4 linked regions of the Homo sapiens genome follow. The protein of the gene in region 4 purifies or fractionates together with the protein of the main gene of each other region. This does not show direct contact. Each region holds a gene or a part of one and is shown on either strand. Other genes may lie near its edges.

Evidence for each region.
Region 1: the proteins of SLC9C1 (region 4) and HERC3 purify together in Homo sapiens (affinity purification with mass spectrometry; one large-scale study listed by BioGRID and IntAct). This does not show direct contact.
Region 2: the proteins of SLC9C1 (region 4) and TMEM201 purify together in Homo sapiens (affinity purification with mass spectrometry; one large-scale study listed by BioGRID and IntAct). This does not show direct contact.
Region 3: the proteins of SLC9C1 (region 4) and UBAC2 purify together in Homo sapiens (affinity purification with mass spectrometry; one large-scale study listed by BioGRID and IntAct). This does not show direct contact.

The regions. Positions count from the first base shown.
Region 1 is NC_000004.12:88,594,652-88,598,979, reverse strand, and holds part of HERC3 (probable E3 ubiquitin-protein ligase HERC3), read right to left. Parts: intron 3,424-4,328; 5' UTR 3,366-3,423; intron 1,031-3,365; exon of another isoform or gene 893-1,030; intron 1-892. UniProt on the Homo sapiens protein: E3 ubiquitin-protein ligase which accepts ubiquitin from an E2 ubiquitin-conjugating enzyme in the form of a thioester and then directly transfers the ubiquitin to targeted substrates.
Region 2 is NC_000001.11:9,608,583-9,612,910, reverse strand, and holds part of TMEM201 (transmembrane protein 201), read right to left. Parts: intron 3,072-4,328; coding exon 3,000-3,071; intron 2,406-2,999; coding exon 2,106-2,405; intron 1,897-2,105; coding exon of another isoform or gene 1,838-1,896; intron 1,693-1,837; coding exon of another isoform or gene 1,571-1,692; intron 1,159-1,570; coding exon 1,021-1,158; intron 1-1,020. UniProt on the Homo sapiens protein: Critical regulator of angiogenesis and endothelial cell (EC) migration. Promotes the migration of endothelial cells, which is essential for angiogenesis.
Region 3 is NC_000013.11:99,198,651-99,203,653, reverse strand, and holds the start of UBAC2 (ubiquitin-associated domain-containing protein 2 isoform 1 precursor), read right to left. Parts: upstream 2,801-5,003; 5' UTR 2,746-2,800; coding exon 2,715-2,745; exon of another isoform or gene 2,243-2,714; coding exon of another isoform or gene 2,087-2,242; intron 1-2,086. UniProt on the Homo sapiens protein: Restricts trafficking of FAF2 from the endoplasmic reticulum to lipid droplets.
Region 4 is NC_000003.12:112,286,728-112,291,884, reverse strand, and holds part of SLC9C1 (solute carrier family 9 member C1), read left to right. Parts: intron 1-5,006; 5' UTR 5,007-5,093; coding exon 5,094-5,157. UniProt on the Homo sapiens protein: Sperm-specific solute carrier involved in intracellular pH regulation of spermatozoa. Required for sperm motility and fertility.

The DNA.
Region 1 (4,328 bases), on a different chromosome or scaffold from region 4:
AATATAGGACTACACTTCCCTCAGCACCTACACCAGCCCCGCTTGGCTGCATTTCCTGCCTCTTATTTCCCCATGACAAAACAAAAGGAAGGACTACTTTTGAAGTACAACTTTCTCTCAATGTCAACCTGGCACTTTCCTGAGTCCTTCTCATCTATTCTTGGTAAGAGATTCAAGATAATCTTAGCAGAGCTTAAGGGTCAAAGGAACTAAAATCCAAGCCCTACATTAACCACGTTAGCTGTGAAACCTGAGGAAAGATGTTTACCCACCTTAAGCTCCAAAATCAGGAGAAGGTGCTAGAGTGTTGTGAGGATTAATGAGAAAATGCATGTAAAAAGGGCTTAGCATGGTGCCTGGCATGTAGTAGTAAGTGACCAGTAAATGTCAGCTGCTTTAGTCAATGTTACTCCTACTCCTAGTGCTCTTCTTTGAGATTTCAGCAGACAGGACAATTCCCAAAAGAGGATGGGATTGTGACTCCTGTCTTCCTCACTGCAATTAGCACTAGCTGCATTCTGCCAAATCTGCACTACAGCAAAGTAGCATCACAACCATCTGCCATAACTTTCATGAAAGGGATTTGAGGTTGATAGGAGGAAGTTTTTTTGTGTGCATTTGCTTTTAAATTCTGGAGAGGGCATGGGTGGAGGGCGGTGGGGAGATAAATCTCTTTTTACTAGCTCTAGTGAGTTGAATGCTAAACGACAACCTTCAGTTCCTAAACTTTGTCTTATGATAAGACTATGCGACTATGCACACAGCAGCCTAACAACTCATTCTTATCCCTTTGTTTGAAAGGCACTGAGACCAAAATAACACTCAGGCAGGACTTCTAATCTCATTTAAAATAGGGATAAGCTTCCTTTCAAGTAAGCTTAGAAGCAATTACCTGAATGTTGTATATATGAAGAGGGTCTCTTTCAACAGCAGGAAAAGACAATGTCCAAAACCTTCAGTGCTTTGCAGATACTCCCCAAATTCAGGCTTTAAATAAATGTAGGGCCAAAACTAAAATGCAGAATTAACTCTGGTAACAAAGAAGATTCATTTTAATGACTTGCCTTATTATCAAAAATGTTCCTACCAAAGACAGAAATGTCATAGAAGGCAAAGAGAAGTTTTCAACAACGTGAATCCACTCCTTGCTGTTTTCTCTCTCCTCCACTTTAGCTGGACTTTGGTCCTCTGACCCCCTCAGCCAACACAGGAAACACTCCTACCCTTCCCCGGATCATCCCCTCTAAGGTGGTGCCTTCTTCACTACCTGGTGCTAGGCTTTGTGAAGCTGGAAGAATGACTTCTCTGCAGTCTGCTTAAGCTGTGGACTGCCTTCAAAAGACACCAACGAGACTGGCAAGAATTGAAAAGTCTAACAATACCAAGTCAAGGATATACAACAGCCAGGGCCCTCATAGACAGCTGGTGGGAATATAAACTGGCATAAGCACTTGGCAAAACAAGTTGGCATTCTCCAGTGAAGATGAAGATGTGGATACCTCCCCACACAGTAATTTCACTGCTGGGCATATGACCAGCATTATCCAACTTATTAAGCATCTATGGTGCTCCTGTACTATACTAATAAATGGAGATACAAAGATGAGTAAAATCTGGAAACTTGGAACTTTCTGTGATAATGGAAATGCTATATATTTGCACTGTCCACTATGGTAGCCAGTAGGTATATGTGGCTATTGAGTACTTGAAATGTGACTAATACAAGTGAAGAACTGAAATAGTTAATATTTTATTTTAATAAATTTTAATGTAAGTAGCCCTAGGTGACTAGTGGCTATCTTACAGTCCAATGCAGTGAGAAACTCATGAACATATGCACCAAGATACACGTATAAGAATGTTCATTCCAGCATTATTTGAAATAGGAAAAAAACAAAAAACAAATATCCATCAATAAGAAAACAGATAGTGTGGCACATGCATAAAACAGAACACTGTACAGCAGTAAAAAATAAACTCCATCTATAAGCATCATTGTAACTAAATCTTAAAAAGTGTTGAGTCACAGAAGAATTCAGAGTATGATGCATTTTTACAAAATTCAAACACAACTATAACAAATATATTATTTGGAGATTAAGAATCATCAGTGGTAACAAAGCTATGAAGAAAAGCAAATCACAAACACAAAATAGCGGGTAATGATTGTGGAGGCAGTAGGAATAGAGGGAACAATCTGGAAGGAGCACAAAGGGAGACATTTCAATAGCATGGCTGATATTCTGCTTCTGTCCTTTTATTGTTGTTTCTTAACATATATGACATGCATTATTTTATGCTTACAAATACTTCACAAAACAAACAAAAATGCAAAGCGCTGTTGAGGCAGTATGGCTGCTTCTCCTACCTCCTCCACTAACACCCTGCCAACGTGCAGACTGGGAGTTTCTCCATGAAGGAACCAGGTTTTACTCATCTTTGTGCCTTCCATTCTCAGCAGAGTACAAGAGCACAGCAGAGGCTTGATAAATGCCTAGTGAACTGACCCCCATTCTTAGAAAACCTGAATTTCCACCACCTCAACTTGTAACCACTTTTATTTTCCAGATAATGTTAAAGATCCCCCACCCTGAGTAATAATAAAACCAGTTCACTTACACAGAAACACATGTCCCTGCCACCAACAAGTACTATTTCTAAATGGAGTAAATGTCTAAAGGGGACAGAGTTATATTATCAAATTTACCACCTTATTAAAAGTCCATTTGATCTAACCTCTAAGCAAAAGACTTACATTCCTAAATTCATTTTAATGGCAGCTAAGGCCTTCAGAGGCCAAGTAACTTTGGTCCACTAAGAATTAAGTGCTTGGCCAGGCGCGGTGGCTCACGCCTGTAATCCTAACACTTTGGAAGGCCGAGGCAGGCGGATCACGAGGTCAGGAGATCAAGACCATCCTGGCTAACACAGTGAAACCCCGTCTCTACTAAAAATACAAAAAATTAGCTGGGCGAGGTGGTGGGCACCTGTAGTCCCAGCTACTCGGGAGGCTGAGGCAGGAGAATGGCATGAACCCCGGGGGGCGGAGCCTGCAGTGAGCCGAGATCCCGCCACTGCACTCCAGCGTGGGCGACAGCCAGACTCCCTCTCAAAAAAAAAAAAAAAAAAAAAAAAAAAGAATTAAGTGCTTGAAGCAGAGACCAGAAACCAGGTCTCCTACTTCTTGGGCTCACCTTGTTCTCTTCACTATCTTAGAGCAGCAGGAAGGCACTGAGATTTGTTTAGGTCCCTCTCTAGGTAGCTACCCTAGCTTGAGTTGATGAGAGTATTAAACAGGATAATGCATGTAAAGGACTCCATTTACAAGATGAAAAACTGAGGTCCAGAAAAATTAAGTAACTCACCACAGGTCACACACTTGGCATTGGACTAGAAGCCAGAAATATTCCACACCTTGCAGTTCTGCAAGTTAAAGAAATAATAAATAACATTAGTATGGAACTCTGTTGTGTCTTCATGTTACTGTAAACAAAAAGACAGGAGTTAACCTCTGAAAATAAGAATATCTTTAAATTACTCAATCTTGAATATTCCCCACGCATTGTATCTCAAGACAGGAGTTTGGTTAAATACCAGTAAGATAACCTCTAACCAGTTATAAAGACATCAATCACCTCTAAAAGTGAACTAGAGATATAGATATCACCTTATAAAAATTCCTGACATTTGATAGGGAGTAGTAAAAATGGAATTACTTTAAAATCTCCCATTTTTGTTAGAGAAAATTTTGGAAAATAATTAAATTTTGTCTATTTTCTTTATTTTTCCATGTATGACACATAGCAGCTTGTTTTGCCACAACTGTTATGAAGACTGTCTCCTTTCATTCCTTTTCTTTTTTTTTTTTTTTTTTTTTTTGAGACAGAGTCTGGCTCTTTCACCCAGGCTGGAGTGCAGTGGCCGATCTCGGCTCACTGCAACCTCTGCCTCCCAGGTTCAAGCGATTCTCCTGCCTCAGCCTCCCAAGTAGCTGGAATTACAGGCGCCCGCCACCACGCCCAGCTAATTTTTCTATTTTTAGTAGAGAAGGGGTTTCACCATGTTGGTCAGGCTGGTCTCCAACTCCTGACCTCAAGTGATCCACCCGTCTCAAGCCGCCCAAAGTGCTGGGATTACAGGTGTGAGCCACTGCGCCCAGCCAGTCACTGCACCCGGTCTTTCCCTTTTCATTACCACATCCTCCATCATGCAAAATGAGAAGAGATCATCTCAGAGAGATACCTAAAGTATCTCAAAAGAAAAAGTCCTCCATGATTTTAAGATATTTTTGTCAAGCACTTTAGGAGGCCCAGGCGGGTGGACAGCCT
Region 2 (4,328 bases), on a different chromosome or scaffold from region 4:
ATGCAGTTTGTGGGGAGCTCAAGGCTCTGCCCAGGGTACTCTCTGAGACTGGTGAGGCTCACCCCCAATTCTTCTCTTGGCCAAAGGCTTCCCTAGCAGGAAAGACCCCCACTCCCTGCCTCCCTGAAGGCACAGCTTTTCCTAACCCTGAGCCGCCAGGAAGGCCATGGGCTGGGCTGTCATGAGCTGGGGCCTGGGTGATGAGGCAGTGACCACAATGGCCACTTTACAGATGAGGTCATGGGGGCTGGGAACAGGAGCACCCCATCCAGGCCTCCAAGGGAATAAGCAGCCAACCCAGGTCCACCTGCTGCATGCCGCAGCCTGCGTTCTCACCAAGGCCTCCAAGCTGCTGGGCCACCCTCCAGCCTGGGGCAGCACTGGCTTTGAGAGTCAGTGCAAAATGACCTGCCCAGGAAAAGCCCTGCTTGCTGATCTGTCCATCTCCCTCAACACACACCCCCTCCTCCCCACCCAGGGAGTGATGATGTGTACCACAGATCTGGTCTCTTGCCCCTGAGCCCCAGGGTTAGTGAGCAGAGAACCTGGGATCTGAGCCAGGCAGCTCGGCACCCGGTGCAGGCTGCAGCCCCAGCGTGACGTGGTCCCGGTGCACCCAGGCTCTCTGGGCACTTCCGGCCAGGATGGCAGCCTTCGGTATGTGTCCTAAATGCCAGCCACGGGCCACAGGTGCCTACTGAGCACTTGAAATGTGGCTAGTGCAGCTCAAGAACTACATTTCAAACTTTATTTAATTTTAATTCAGTTAATTTAAATAGCTGCCTGGGGCCAGAAGCTACTGGAATAGTGCAGATCGGGGCCCAAATCCCGAGAGGGGGAGTGCCGTCTACTGAGTCCCTGACCCTGGATTCAGAGGCGCCGGGTGGGTTACTTGTCGGCCACTCAGGGACTGCAATGTCCTGGAAGATTCTTTCTGTCAGTGCTCTGGACCCCCCTGGGGGAGATGGTGGCTTCGGATGTGTGCCCACCCCCTCCCCTCCCGCACCTCAGGGTACAGACCTCTCCAGGTGGCGGCCTCCTCCGAGCAGCCCCTGGTGGTGGTGTCCACCACACAGGTAGATGACTGGGAAGAGTCGTCCTCTTTCTTGATGGAGCGGTTGCTGCAGGCACTGCCTCTTTCCAGCTTGGATCTCAGGTCTGCAGAGAGAAGGGTGTGTTTCTCAGTGGCGCTCATGGCTCCCTCCAGGGACAGACGCGGGGCAGCTGTACTTCCACTCTAAGGACAGTTGTCAGAAGTGGTGAGCCAGGCTGTCCCAAGCCACTCATCCACCCTGGACAGTGGGGGGCCAGGTCCTTGCTCAACTGTCCTGCCACCTCTTGTCTGCCAGTATTCAGGCCCAAGGTGACCAGATCTCTGACATTGAAAGAGACGTGGGAAATCTAAACATTCGAGGCCGGGCGCAGTGGCCCACGCCTGTGATCCCAGCACTTTGGGAAGCCAAGATGGGTGGGTCACTTGAGATCAGGAGTTCAAGACCAGCCTGGGAAACATGGTGATATCCCGTCTCTACTAAAAATATAAAAATTAGCCAGGCATGGTGGCGCGCACCTGTAGTCCCAGCTACTCGGGAGGCTGAAGCAGGACAATCTCTTGAACCCTGGAGGAGGAGGTTGCAGTGAGCCAAGATCACGCCACTGCACTCCAGCCTGGGCGACAGAGTGAGACTGCATCTCGAAAAAAAAAAAAAAAGGAAATCTACAAATTCATGTGAAAGTTGAAAGTTGTAGGTTTTAAAGGCTGGGGGCTAACTATAAACATTTTAAATGCTTTGCAGTACAGCACCATTTGAGTGAAACTATCTGTGGCCACACGCACCTGGCAATGCGTGATGTGTTTTCGATCAGTTCCAAGAAACAGAGGACCCTGAAGGTCAACTGCAAAAGGAGAAACTGAAATCAGCCATTAGAGGTCAATGTCCCAGAGGGTTCAAGTCACCAGAGCCGGAATGGGGTGCCTAGAGCTCCAGGGTGGGAAGGCGCACACCGGAGTCAGAGCAAGGATGAGCCCCCCCACCGCCGCACAGCCAGGCCTCTTGGCAGCAGAGGCCCTCCCACGGCCCCTTGGGGTGGTCAGAAGGCCGTACCCAGGGCGTGCTTCACGTCCTGCAGGGGCGGCTTCCGGGGAACATGGGGCGGCTCCATGGTGAAGAGGCTGCCGTTGTGAGGCGAGTGCTCATCGGAGCTGCTGGGCGTGGTGGGGGCCTCTCCAGGGGGTGACGGGAACAGCAGCAGCTTCTGTCCCTTCAGGTTGAGCCGGGCAGGGCTGATGAGGGGCCTGCGGTGGCGCAGAGAGCCGGAGCTGGAGGCCACCGAGCCGGCCACGGAAGGCGCTGGGGAAGGGAGTGGGGAGGAGGGGCAGCTCCCCGACAGAAGAGAGAAGTAATCTGGAGGGAGGGAGGAAGATGATGTGAACGTGGGCTCCTGTCACTGCAACGCTACAATGCGCTATTTCATTTCTGGGGGCATTCTTCTATTAACCCGGGAAGACAGGAAAGGTGCAGAGACTGGGGACAGGGGGAAGTCCTGCTGCAAAGCTGAAGGAGGAGAGGTGCCCTCTACCAGGCACCTGAGGGAGAGGAGAGATCCCGGAGCCTCAGCCATGGCCTTCTGCCCTTGATTTCCATCCAAAGCCCTGGGTACCATCAGCTGAGAGCAAGGCCAGATAGCAGCAAACCCTGGAGGTACAAGGCCAGCTCACCCGAGGCCTTGCTGCCAGCTGGCACCTGGTGCACCAGTTCCAGCCGTGACTGCCACTGAGGACGGCAGAGCAGCATGGTACCATCTGATCCTAGAGACTGTCATTCCCATTTCACGCAAGAGGAAACTGAGGCACAGGTGTGTAGGTCACTTGCCCAGGGCTGAGATGTGAACACACACTTGGGGTCTGTCTGACCCCAAAGCTCACACAAACCACCATGCTCTGGAACGCCCGGGCTTCATGTTGCCCCGTCCCCCACTTAGCTCTCTGTCTTCCTCACCTGAAACAGGAAACTCCCCAGATCGAGACACCTGAGATGGTGGGCGGCTACCGCTGAACAGATAGCCGGAGTCTGGAGACAGAGAGAAGCGGGCGACACGTCAGGCCTGTGGATGACGTGCAGAGGCCCCCACAAATGCTCTGCCGAAATCCCAATCCAGCCTTTGCTCTTTACAAATGTGCTTTCATGGAAACACAGGTGCTCACGGATTCCTCGGACTGCTGTCTGAGGGCTGCTGGGCACGTTCCCTTTTTGCAGATAAAGAAACTGAGGCTTGGGCTGGGCGCAGTGGCTCATGCCTGTAATCCCAGCACTTTGGGAGGCTGAGGTAGGCAGATCAGATCACGAGGTCAGGAAGAAACTTGAGGCTCACAGCAGGTGGTGAGAAGAGTCGGCACTGGGCATATTGTCCACTCCTCGTTCCATGCCCTTCTTCCCACAGAAGGGCCTGCTTTTCCAGCCATCTAGTCCCACTTTCTCCACTAATTGCAGACCCCAACTGCCTGTTCTCTCGATCCCAGGGATCACCAACCACGCTGCCTTTTCCTAAATCAGGCGCACGCACCCCAAGGGCAGGGGCCCCAATTCCAAGTGGCTGGCTGAGAGCTGAATGTGGGACCCAGGGACTGCCTCATGTCCTGTTGCCACCTGTGGGCTCTGAAGGGTCTGTTGCAGCATGCAGATAACCCTCCCCTCACCAGGCCAGGGGATAGGCTGGATAAGGGTGGTCACAAGGACCCAGCATGCCAACCAGGGTCCTTCTAGAATCCATTCTATGGATGCTGGGAGAGGCCGTCTTCCTGCTGGGCATGGGCTGCAGGACACAGGGATGAGGTGTGTGGCAGAGAAGCGGACTGAGGACAGACAGGGAGACAGCAAGCTGGATTCTGGCCACAGCACCTGAGCCCGGTCCAGCGCGTCTCTGAATACATGAGCCAAAGCCCTGCAGGAACTCCTGCCCCCGACCCACCCTCTGGCGATGGAGACCGGGCTCCTCCCCCCGACCCACTCTGGTAATGGAGACTGGGGTCCCATCTGTCACCGGACACTCCAAGACAAGCTTGCGCCCCAAGACCTCTGCTGCTACCTCAGACAGGTCGCTACTGTGTCCCTGCCTTGAGCCTTAACAGGGAGATTGCCTGTTCTTCTCTGTGGGCAGGAGCCCCTGCCTTGGAGGCCTGAACTGGCCCTGGGATTGCCACGCTCCCCTCCCAAGGGGCTTGAAACAGAAGTCCCTGAGCTCTGCCACCTTGGTCAGTGCGCACAGAGTTTACTCGGAGTGCTCAGGCCCAGGGCAGGGCTGCTCCTGGCACCTCCCACCCCAAGTTC
Region 3 (5,003 bases), on a different chromosome or scaffold from region 4:
GATGCTGGTCTCCTTGATCCTGCTTATTACTTTATCCTCTGTATATCAACAGTGTGTGGCTGATATGGGTACCCAACAGACACTTATTGAATGGATGAGAGAGAAAGGCAAGTTTAACACTAAAATACTATTATCTACTAACCACAAAACGTGGGAAACATGCAGGTGGTAGAAAATGGCAGGGATTTATCCCTGGAAAGGGACTGTTATTCACCACCCATGGGGGTAGGGCTAGGTACACGTGTCGTCCTTCTTTCAGATTCTTGCTCAGGATCAGAATTTTGATTTGCTAAAGGGTCCCTCAACTTATCTAAAGGAAATCATAGGCAGTGGCTCACGCCTGTAATCCCAGCACTTTTGGAGGCCGAGGCGGGAGGACCACTTGAGGTCAGGAGCTCAAGACCAGCCTGGTCAACATGGCAAAACCCCGTCTCTACTAAAAATACAAAAATAGCCAGGTGTGATGGTGGGCACCTGTAATCCCAGCTACTTGGGAGGCTGAGGCGGGAGAATCGCTTGAACTCGGGAGGCGGAGGTTGCAGTGAGCGGAGATCCACCACTGCACTCCAGCCTGGGCAACAGTGAGACTCCATCTCAATAAATAAATAAATAAATAAATAAATAAATAAAATAAAACAAAGGAAATCACTTCTCCCTCAGTGGGTAGCTTCTCCAGAGAAAAATGTTAAAGCTGACACACAGCCTTTTCTAATGACCAGTCCTGGAAAACTGTGCCTAAGCTCCGTCAGCACTGTAAGCACTGAGACCAGGACCTGTTCGTTGCTGCATTCCCAGCACCTAGCCCAGTTCATCGCCCAGAGGAGATGCCCAAAATGTTTGTAAAATGAGCATGTAAGACACAGCCTTCTGAGGAACGGCCATCCCAACAACTCTTACACTGCAGAAGCACTTAATTTTAGAAACAGGCCAAGACAGCTGCAGAGGGGCTCCAGACCTACGCCTCTCCCTGGGCAACAGTTTGGTTCCTAGAATTCAACACTCACCACCATGTGCCATAGATAACAAAATATTATCTTCCCCACAGTTGCCCTGTATCAAATTTGAATACACTTGGCCAATATAATCTCATGGCTAATACAGTACAGCAACCAATAAGATTTCTCTTGCCCTTTATTTTTTTATATGTACTTTGGCCAGCAAGGATAGATCAAAATGCTAAAGAACAATTGAAATTGAAGAATTCCACCATTAATTTCATAACCAGTAGTTCCTGGCTCACTGTGTGATCCCAGGAAAACCACATTGCCTTCTTGAACTGTCAGCTTCAGCTACAGTCCTAATGCTCTTTATCTAAAGGGTAGTTTGGGGAAGATTACTTAGTAGTTGTAACATACTCCGGGACCAATCCATGAAAGATGCCATAAATCAAATTAATTATGAAACAAAGGAAATCATAAATATTGAAACCACTTCAAAACCTGAGAAGTTGAGAAGTGAGGAAGATTTAAAATTATGCCTGTGGCGCTGATACTAACTCACTGTCAGACTATAAGACGAGACACACATTCTCAGAAGATTCATGACATTCCCAACAGATCTTTTTTTTTTTTTTTTTTTTTTGAGATGGAGTCTCGCTTTGTCGCCCAGGCCAAAGTGCAGTGGCGCAATCTCGGCTCGCTGCAAGCTCCGCCTCCCGGGTTCACGCCATTCTCCTGCCTCAGCCTCCCGAGTAGCTGGGAATACAGGCACCCGCCACCACGCCCAGCTAATTTTTTGTGTTTTTAGTAGAGAGACGGGGTTTCACCGTGTTAGCCAGGATGGTCTCGATCTCCTGACCTCGTGATCCGCCCACCTCGGCCTCCCAAAGTGCTGGGATTACAGGCGTGAGCCACCGCGCCCGGCCAACAGATCTTTAATATTTGGAAATGTCAGATGTTTCTGTCCTCCAGCAGCATTAACTTCACATGGAGTATGAACAGTGACAAGCAATTGCAAAATTAGAGCTGTTCTCCGTTGCTGTACCCGTGCCTAACTGTTAACACGCAGTCTACCTTACCGAAAGTCAATTCCACACACTCAGTGAGAAAAGCCGTTTAACTGGCTGTAAAAATACTCCGCCCCCTACCTGCTGACCACCGCTAACACGCCAGGAAAACAGCAACATCCAGCAGCACAGCTGCGCTCCCTCGCCACGACTTCCTAACTTCCCTCCACTTGAAAGCACTCTCATCAGTGTGTGTTTGTCTAAAAACTCTTCTTGGAGACTGAAGAAGAAACACATCCAAGTGAAACTGAGAGGTCAGCTTCTAAAGCGGAGGCTGAACTTTGCAAGTGGGGGCGGGGGGAGTTAGTTCGGTCCCCCAAGCCTAAAAGAATGGGGCATGGTAAGGGGGACGGCCCCTTCCTTCAGCGCGGCACACGCTCCGCAAAGGGCCTGGGGCCGGCCCACGAGAACACCAGGGCACCTGCCCACTTGCAGCGGCCCCAAGAGACTCCTGGGCAGAGCACCTGGGGATACCAGGTGGGGTCGGGGCGGGCGGCGGGGCTTTGTCCCCATTCGCCCCTCCAGGCCGAAATGGGGGCGGTTTCCGCTGACCCCCAAGACCGGGAACTAGCAGGGTTCGGACGCGGGTCTGGAGGGTCGGCCCCACCACCTCCGGCAAACCCGAGGGTCCCCGCTGCCCCAGCCTCCTCAAAGAGGTGCCTAGGGTGGCGTGTAGGGGGCAGCCAGGATGGCGGAGGCCGGTACTCACAGAGCCCACTGGAGCCGGTGCTGGTGAACATGGTCCCGCCGGGCTCGGAGCCCCAGAGGGCGCCGGGGGAGGGGAAGCTGAAGTGCGAGCCCCAGCGACCGCGCAGGCGCACTCTTGGCGGAGCGACGAATCCGGCGCCGCGAGGCCACTCGCCGCTGACGAACGGCGCACCCGGCGCATGCGCAGTCAGGGGCGTGCGCCCGCTGGGTCAGCGCCCTCCTTCCTGCCGGGGAAGGGAAGTGCGTCGGTAGGGGAGGGCTCACCTCTCCAGGTTGAAACGATGGCGGTCAGAACCGCCTGAGGTAAAAACGGGTGGCACTGGGGAAGCGGAGGCGTAGCTCCCGAGAGCCTCACACTTGTGCTCAGTGCCGCCTCACCCCTGGTGGATCCGCGATGGCCGCGGATTCCCCTGGATTGCCGGCGCTGGGCAGGAGCGCCACTTCTAATCTCTCCCGAGACTGGACGCCCGGCGCCTTCCACGCGCGTTGTGTCTTTCCGGGCGGTCCCTCGAAGCTGGCTACCCCGCGGGCTGTTGACTGCAGTGGGATCTGGTCACTCAGATGCGGATAGAGGGGTACGGGAGCCGGAGAGGTGGAACAGGTCCTTCCGGGTGCGGAGAGCTGGGCCGTCCAGCCGCCTCTTTGTTCCCGCGTGGGTCCCGCGCGGAATCCCCACCACCGGGGCCGACTGTCGTGGTCCCTGGAGTCAGCACCCTGCCCTCCCCGCCGTGGTGGCGGGTGGCTGGGGGGTCCCCGGCCCGGCGAGCCCGGCGGAGCGACCCTGCGCTTCTGCCCTGGCGAGCTTCCGGACTCAGGCCATTTAAATTTTTTTCCCCAGCAGAATGAAGTTACTCTTTGCCAAAGTCACGGTTTTTAAATGTGTGAGCCTGAAAACATATCATGCAGTCGTTTTAAAAAGTTTTTTTTTAAGTTGATCTCGTGAAAGTAGGGAGTAAAAGAGTGGTTATTCTTGTACAGAGGAGAGTTAGTGGGGAGGAAGATGGGGAGAGGTTGGTCAACAGACACAAAGTTATAGTTAGAAGGAATAAGTTTTGGTATTCTCTTGCACGTTTGGATGACTATACTCAACGATAATGTTAACTTCAAAATAGCTAGAAGAGAGGATTTTGAATATTCTCACCACAAAGAAATGACAAGTGTTTTGGTGATGGATGTGCTAATTACCCTGATTAGATGGTTGCACAATGTGTATATGTATGGAACCATCACACTGTACCCCAGAAATACATGCAATTATGTGAGAACGCATGTTATGGGGAAAATTGACCACACTACCCAGCTAAATGAAAGGGATAGGCTATGGAGTACTAAAAAAAAAAAAGCATTTTCAGTGCTCATAAGTGCCAGCCAGTGTGCTAAATCTGTGATTCGTAGATCAACACAGTCCCTACCCTCAAAGAGAGGTTCCAGTGGGCCAAAATGTTAACACTGATTATAGAAGGCAAAAGTATGACTTTTATTTGCTTCTTTAGGCTTTATTCGTAAAGTTCATTTTCACAGTCTTGTTTTGTTCGTTTGTTTTGAGACGGAGTCTCGCTCTCCCCAGCTGGAGTGCAGTGGCGCGATCTCGGCTCACTGATACCTCTGCCTCCCCGGTTCAAGCGATTCTCCTGCCTCAGCCTCCCAAGTAGCTGGGACTACAGGCACCTGACACCACCCTGGCTATTTTTTGTATTTTTAGTAGAGATGAGGTTTCACCATGTTGGTCAGGCTGGTCTCGAACTCCTGACCTCGTGATCCGCCCGCCTTGGCCTCCCAAAGTGTTGGGATTACAGGCGTGAGCCTCTGGGCCCAGCCCATTTTCACAGTCTTGAAGTACATTTTACATTTACCTTTAGGTTCGTTCGAGTTATTTTTCAGGAAAACGACAGTCAAAAGGTCCTTTATGTTTGCAGAAGCTGTTGATGGACTACACCCTGACCCATTAAGGGGATGCAAAGTCCAAAACTATTTTCATAATAATGCTAAGACATTAGTTTTATTTTCTACTCTCTCAAGTATATAGTGGAGTTTTCCATTGTACAATTGGACAACTGTACAGAGCTACGTAACTGGATTTTCCACTGTACAGAGCTACATAACTGGATTTTCCAGTTGACCGATGCATAATGTTATGAAATCTTATGTGGGTAAAAGATTAATTTGAACCATAAAATACACCAGTAAACTTTAGTGTAACAGTCCAAAATGTTCATTCATATGGTTTCAGATTCCTCACTGCAATTAACCTTTAAGAAACTACCACTTGCTAAGTTATCGTATAGTATCA
Region 4 (5,157 bases):
ACCATTGATGGGCATTTGGGTTGATTCTATGACTTTGCTTTTGTGAACAGTACTGCAATGAATGTACGCATGCATATGTCTTTATGATAGAACAGTTTACATTTCTTTGTGTTTATACCCCGTAATGGGATTGCTGGGTCAAATGTTAGATCTGTTTTTAGGTCTTTGAGGAATCACCACACTGTTTTCCACAGTGGTTGAACTAATTTACATTCCCACCAACAGTGTATAAGCATTCCTTTTTCTCCACAACCTTGTCAGCATCTGTTATTTTTTGACTTTTTAATAGGAGCCATTTTGACTGGTGTGAAATGGTACCTTCCTTGTGGTTTTGATTTGCATTTCTCTAATGATCAGTGATGTTAAGCTTTTTTTTTCATATGCTTGTTGGCAGCATGTATGTCTTCTTTTTAGAAGTGTCTTGTCCTTTGCCTACTTTTTAATGGGGCTGGTTGTTTTTTCTTGTAGATTATTTTAAGTTCCTTATAGATGCTGGATATTAGACCTTTGTCAGAAGCATAGTTTGCAAAAATTTTCTCCCATTCTGTAGGTTATCTGTTTACTTTGTTGATAGTTTCTTTTGCGTGCAGTAGCTCTTTAGTTTAATTAGATCCCATTTGTTAATTTTTGCTTTTGTTGTGATTGCTTTTGATGTCTTTGTCGTGAAACCTTAGCCCACTCCTATGTCAAGAATGATGTTGCCATTACCAGCCACTACAAAAACACACTTAAGTACACAGACCAGTGACACTGTAAAGCAAGCACACAGTCAAGTCTGCATAATCACCAGCTAACATCATGCTGACAAGATCAAATCCACATGTATCAATACTAACCTCGAAAGTAAATGGGCTAACTGCCCCAATTAAAAGGCACAGAGTGTCAGGATGAATAAAGAACCCAGACCCTATGGTATGCTGTCTTCAAGACACCCATCTCACATGCAAGATCGAAAGAAATGGATGGAGAAAAACTACCAAGCCAATGTAAAACAGAAAAAAGCAAGGGTTGCAATCCTGATTTCAGACAAAACAGACTTTAAGCCAACAAAGATCAAAAAAAAAAAAAAAGAAGGAAAAGAAGGTAATAACATAATGGTAAAGGGTTCAATTTAACAATACCTAACTAAATATATATCCACTCAACACAGGAGCACCCAGATTCATAAAGCAAGTTCTTAGAGACTTTCAAAGAGACTGACACTCCCACATAATAATAGTGGGAGACTTCAACATCCCACTGACAGTTTTAGACAGATCATCAAGGCAGAAAATTAACAAACATATTCAGGACCTAAACTCAGCAGGCTCAAATGAACCTGTAGACTTCTACAGACCTCTTCACCCAAAAACAAAAGAGTATACATTCTTCTCATTGCCACGTGACACATACTCTAAAATCAACCATACGGTCAAACAAAGAACACTTGTCAGCAAATGCAAAAGAACTGAAATCACAATAACCACTCTCTCAGACCACAGCACAATTTTATTATTTTCTGAAAAAAAAATTTATTATAATTGAATGTGTAAACACTTATTACAATTTTTAAATAATTTTAGAAATGATAAAAATGCTCATGGGAACATGTATTCTTAGTTTGGAAAACAATAGACTTCTTAACTATATTAAATTCAGAAAGCATGTAGGAATGTGTAACTGTGGTACAGAAAATAATTTTCCTTATTTCGTCTAGCCTGTATACTCGAGGATGCTTAGTCTTGGCATAAGAGTGGGCAAGTTAAGAGGTGACATTGACAATATTTTTCTCAATAGTTTGATGTTAAGAGCAAATATTACTAATTGACCAAAATGTTCTTTCCTAATGGCAGGGGCTTCCCCTGGAGCAGTGTTTCTAAACACCAGTTGCTCATTAGAATCACTGGAAAGCTTTTAGAGTTCCCAGTACTCAAGCTGCACCCCAGAAGAATTAAATTAACCTTGGAGGGTGGGCACCAAGGCATCAGTATTTTCTAAAACTTGCCACGTGATTCCATGTGTGGCCAAGGTTGAGAATGTCTGTTAAGAGACATAGCTGAGCTCACTCTTCTCTGTCACTTATATTACATTCGAGATCTTCAGGTCTACCTACAGTTCTTGATATGTTTAGGTAACATTAAAAAATTTAGAAATCCTTTGAGGAAAAGAACCAAACACAAAACCCAAAACAACCCCCAAATCCAGGAAGTGATCTAATACTCAGAGATAGGACTCAGTATGTTGCTCCAGGCTGGCCTTAGGCTCACAGCTGCGCCAATGTTGTTCTCCTCTTTGACATAAATGATCCCACAGAACATCAACATCAGACAAAGTCACTTCAAACCTTAGCAAAATGAGACACAAAGGTTGTTGTGCAACCTATACAACACCAAACACCCTCAGTCTCAGCTAAAATGAGTGACTGCTGCTTCTGTGCCCATCACAGCTGTATCTTAGCTCTAGTCTACCCTCCTTATAGTAAAGTTTTATTGAATACTCAATCACGGAATTGTCCTCACTTTCTGACAGCACCTTACCTAAAGTGAACCCTCACTTCCATAGACCTTTTCCAAAATTACCCAGACAAAGCGCAGATCCTCTAATAGGTTATTTCTAACACTCTTTTGCTGATATACCCCATGGTTTCCCATGGTGAGTCATCTCCTTCACCGCAACAAATAAATAACAAACAAAACTTGTTAACTACAGATGTATTTCTGGTAACATTTGGCTGAAGGGCATTGACAGCCTTTCTCACAAAACCTCACCAAGAATATTGAAAAGAAGCTGGCTTTGAGACTAAAAATTGAGCAATGTTGTCTGAATTGAGCGGATCACAGTGGTTGCTAACCTTGGCTGGGTTAAATTAAAATTACCTGAAGAGCCCAGGCTGCAAACCAGACTGAATTAAATCAGAATCTCTGGAGATAGGACGTAGGCACCAAGTATCATTATAGCTCCTTAGGTAATTCCAAAAAATAATAAATAAAGGGAGAGAAATTACACAGACTAGAAAATTATACAGATTTGAAAACTGAGGCCAGTGGTGTTAAAGTAAGCTACCCTGAGTCTTTCAACCTACAAGCAGAAGCCCATCAGACCTACGAATGCAAGTAGTCTGACCGCAGATTCTGAAATTTGTTTTAGAGACAAGGTATCACTCTGTCACCCCGGTTGGAATGCAGTGTCACGATCATAGTTCACTGCAGCCTTGAATGCCTGGGCTCAAAACAATGTCCCACCACCCCCTCAGCCTCCTGAGTAGCTAGGACCATAGGCGAGCACCACACTGAGGTAAGTTTTTTATTTTTTGTAGCAATGGAGGCTTGCTATGTTGCCCAGCCTGGTCTTGAATTCCTGGCCTCAAGGGATCCTCCCATCTTGGCCTCCCAAAATGTTGGGATTATAGGCATGGGCCAGTATGCCAGCCAGAGTATGCACTTTTACCTTGGTGGTAATATGTTACAAGCTTTGTGAATGTTATCTATAAGGCTTTTGATGCTGGTGATACAATAATAAGAGGAAAACAGCACAAAATTTAATCGTAAAAGGATGAGCCCAACAATGCAAATAAAACCTGTAAGAGCCACTAGATGATATGATTTTGGGTCATTTCTCTTCTGCTTTTGAAATACTTGTTTACATATTTATTTCAAGAAGTGTTCACAATAAACATGTATTTATTTTCCCCTTCAAAATATTGTTTTATAATAAAAAGGAAGACATAAGAAAACATATATATATCATATGTATATATGATGTGTGTGTGTGCGTGTGTGTATGAAACTGAAAAAAAAATTTGCCAGGTTATGAGAGGAATTGTAATTTCTTTTCCTTTTCCTTTTTTTTTTTTTTTTTTTTTTGAGACGGAGTCTTGCTCTGTGGCCCAAGCTGGAGTGCAGTGGCACGATCTCGGCTCACTGCAAGCTCCGCCTCCCCGGTTCACGCCATTTTCCTGCCTCAGCCTCCCGAGTAGCTAGGACTACAGGCGCCCGCCACCATGCCCGGCTAATTTTTTGTATTTTTAGTAGAGACCGGGTTTCACCATACCAGGATGGTCTCAATCTCCTGACCTCGTGACCCACCCGCCTCGGCCTCCCAAAGTATTGGGATTACAGGCGTGAGCCACCGTGCCCGGCCAGGAATTATAATTTCTTAGTAAGGCAGCCATATGAGATGCTGATAGAAGGCACTAAAAAATGTCAAGCTACCATTATGAGAGATAGAATCATAATATCCTGTGTGAAATGTAAGACCTTTGATGTAAAACTTTCCTTTCCATGGGAAGCAGGCGAGATTGCCTGACTGTGGTTAACTGTCTATTGTTTCAAACTCTTATCAAGGCCCCTCTTGTTCCTCTTCCAAGAAGTAACAAAGAAATAGAACATGTAACAATTTCCCTGATTTAAGAAAGTTTTTTGGTTTTAATATTTTTCTTACATTCTTGGTTGCTATATACACATATAAATTTAGAGAACACCTGGTCTGTCAGTGTCCCAAATGAGATCAAAGAAGGCTGTGATTGGATATCATCATGATTTATTAATTTCTGTCTGGATAAAACAACAAAAGAGATCCAAATATTCTTCCCTGCTTTTCCTCCTACTTTGGAATAGCTGTCAGAACATGCTTGCAGAGGCTTAGATAATCTGAGGACAAAACCCTTTGTTGTCCTTCCACAGAGCTAAGTAACCTGCACCAGCTTGTGGTTCCAATGACCACATTGGTGAGTGTGAATAGTTAGATGGAGAATCCTTCTTTCAGACAGTTGGATGGATTCAGAGTGGGTAACAAGTGCGTAGTGCTTGGCATTGTAAGTAAACATAAGGTAACACTGGTAGTCTCTATCACTTGGGGTTCTGACTTTTTTATTACATTAACTTGAAAGCATCATAGAAGGGAGAGGCATCCCTAAATTTGGCAGACCACGAGAAATCACTAGAAATAATTAAAGGAGAATAGGGCTTTTTTTCTTTTTTAGAAAATTATTAGAAGGCCACCAAGAAGGCAAATCTTATGTTTCTTAGATTCAGATGGACTGTGAAAAACAACAAGATGGATGATCATATGGAGATTGCTTCTAACATAAATCTGCATAAAAATTTTTCTGAAACATGGCTGGAATATTTAAGGAGTTTTTTTTCAGTACTGAGGACCTCCCTGAAGTCATTCTAACAT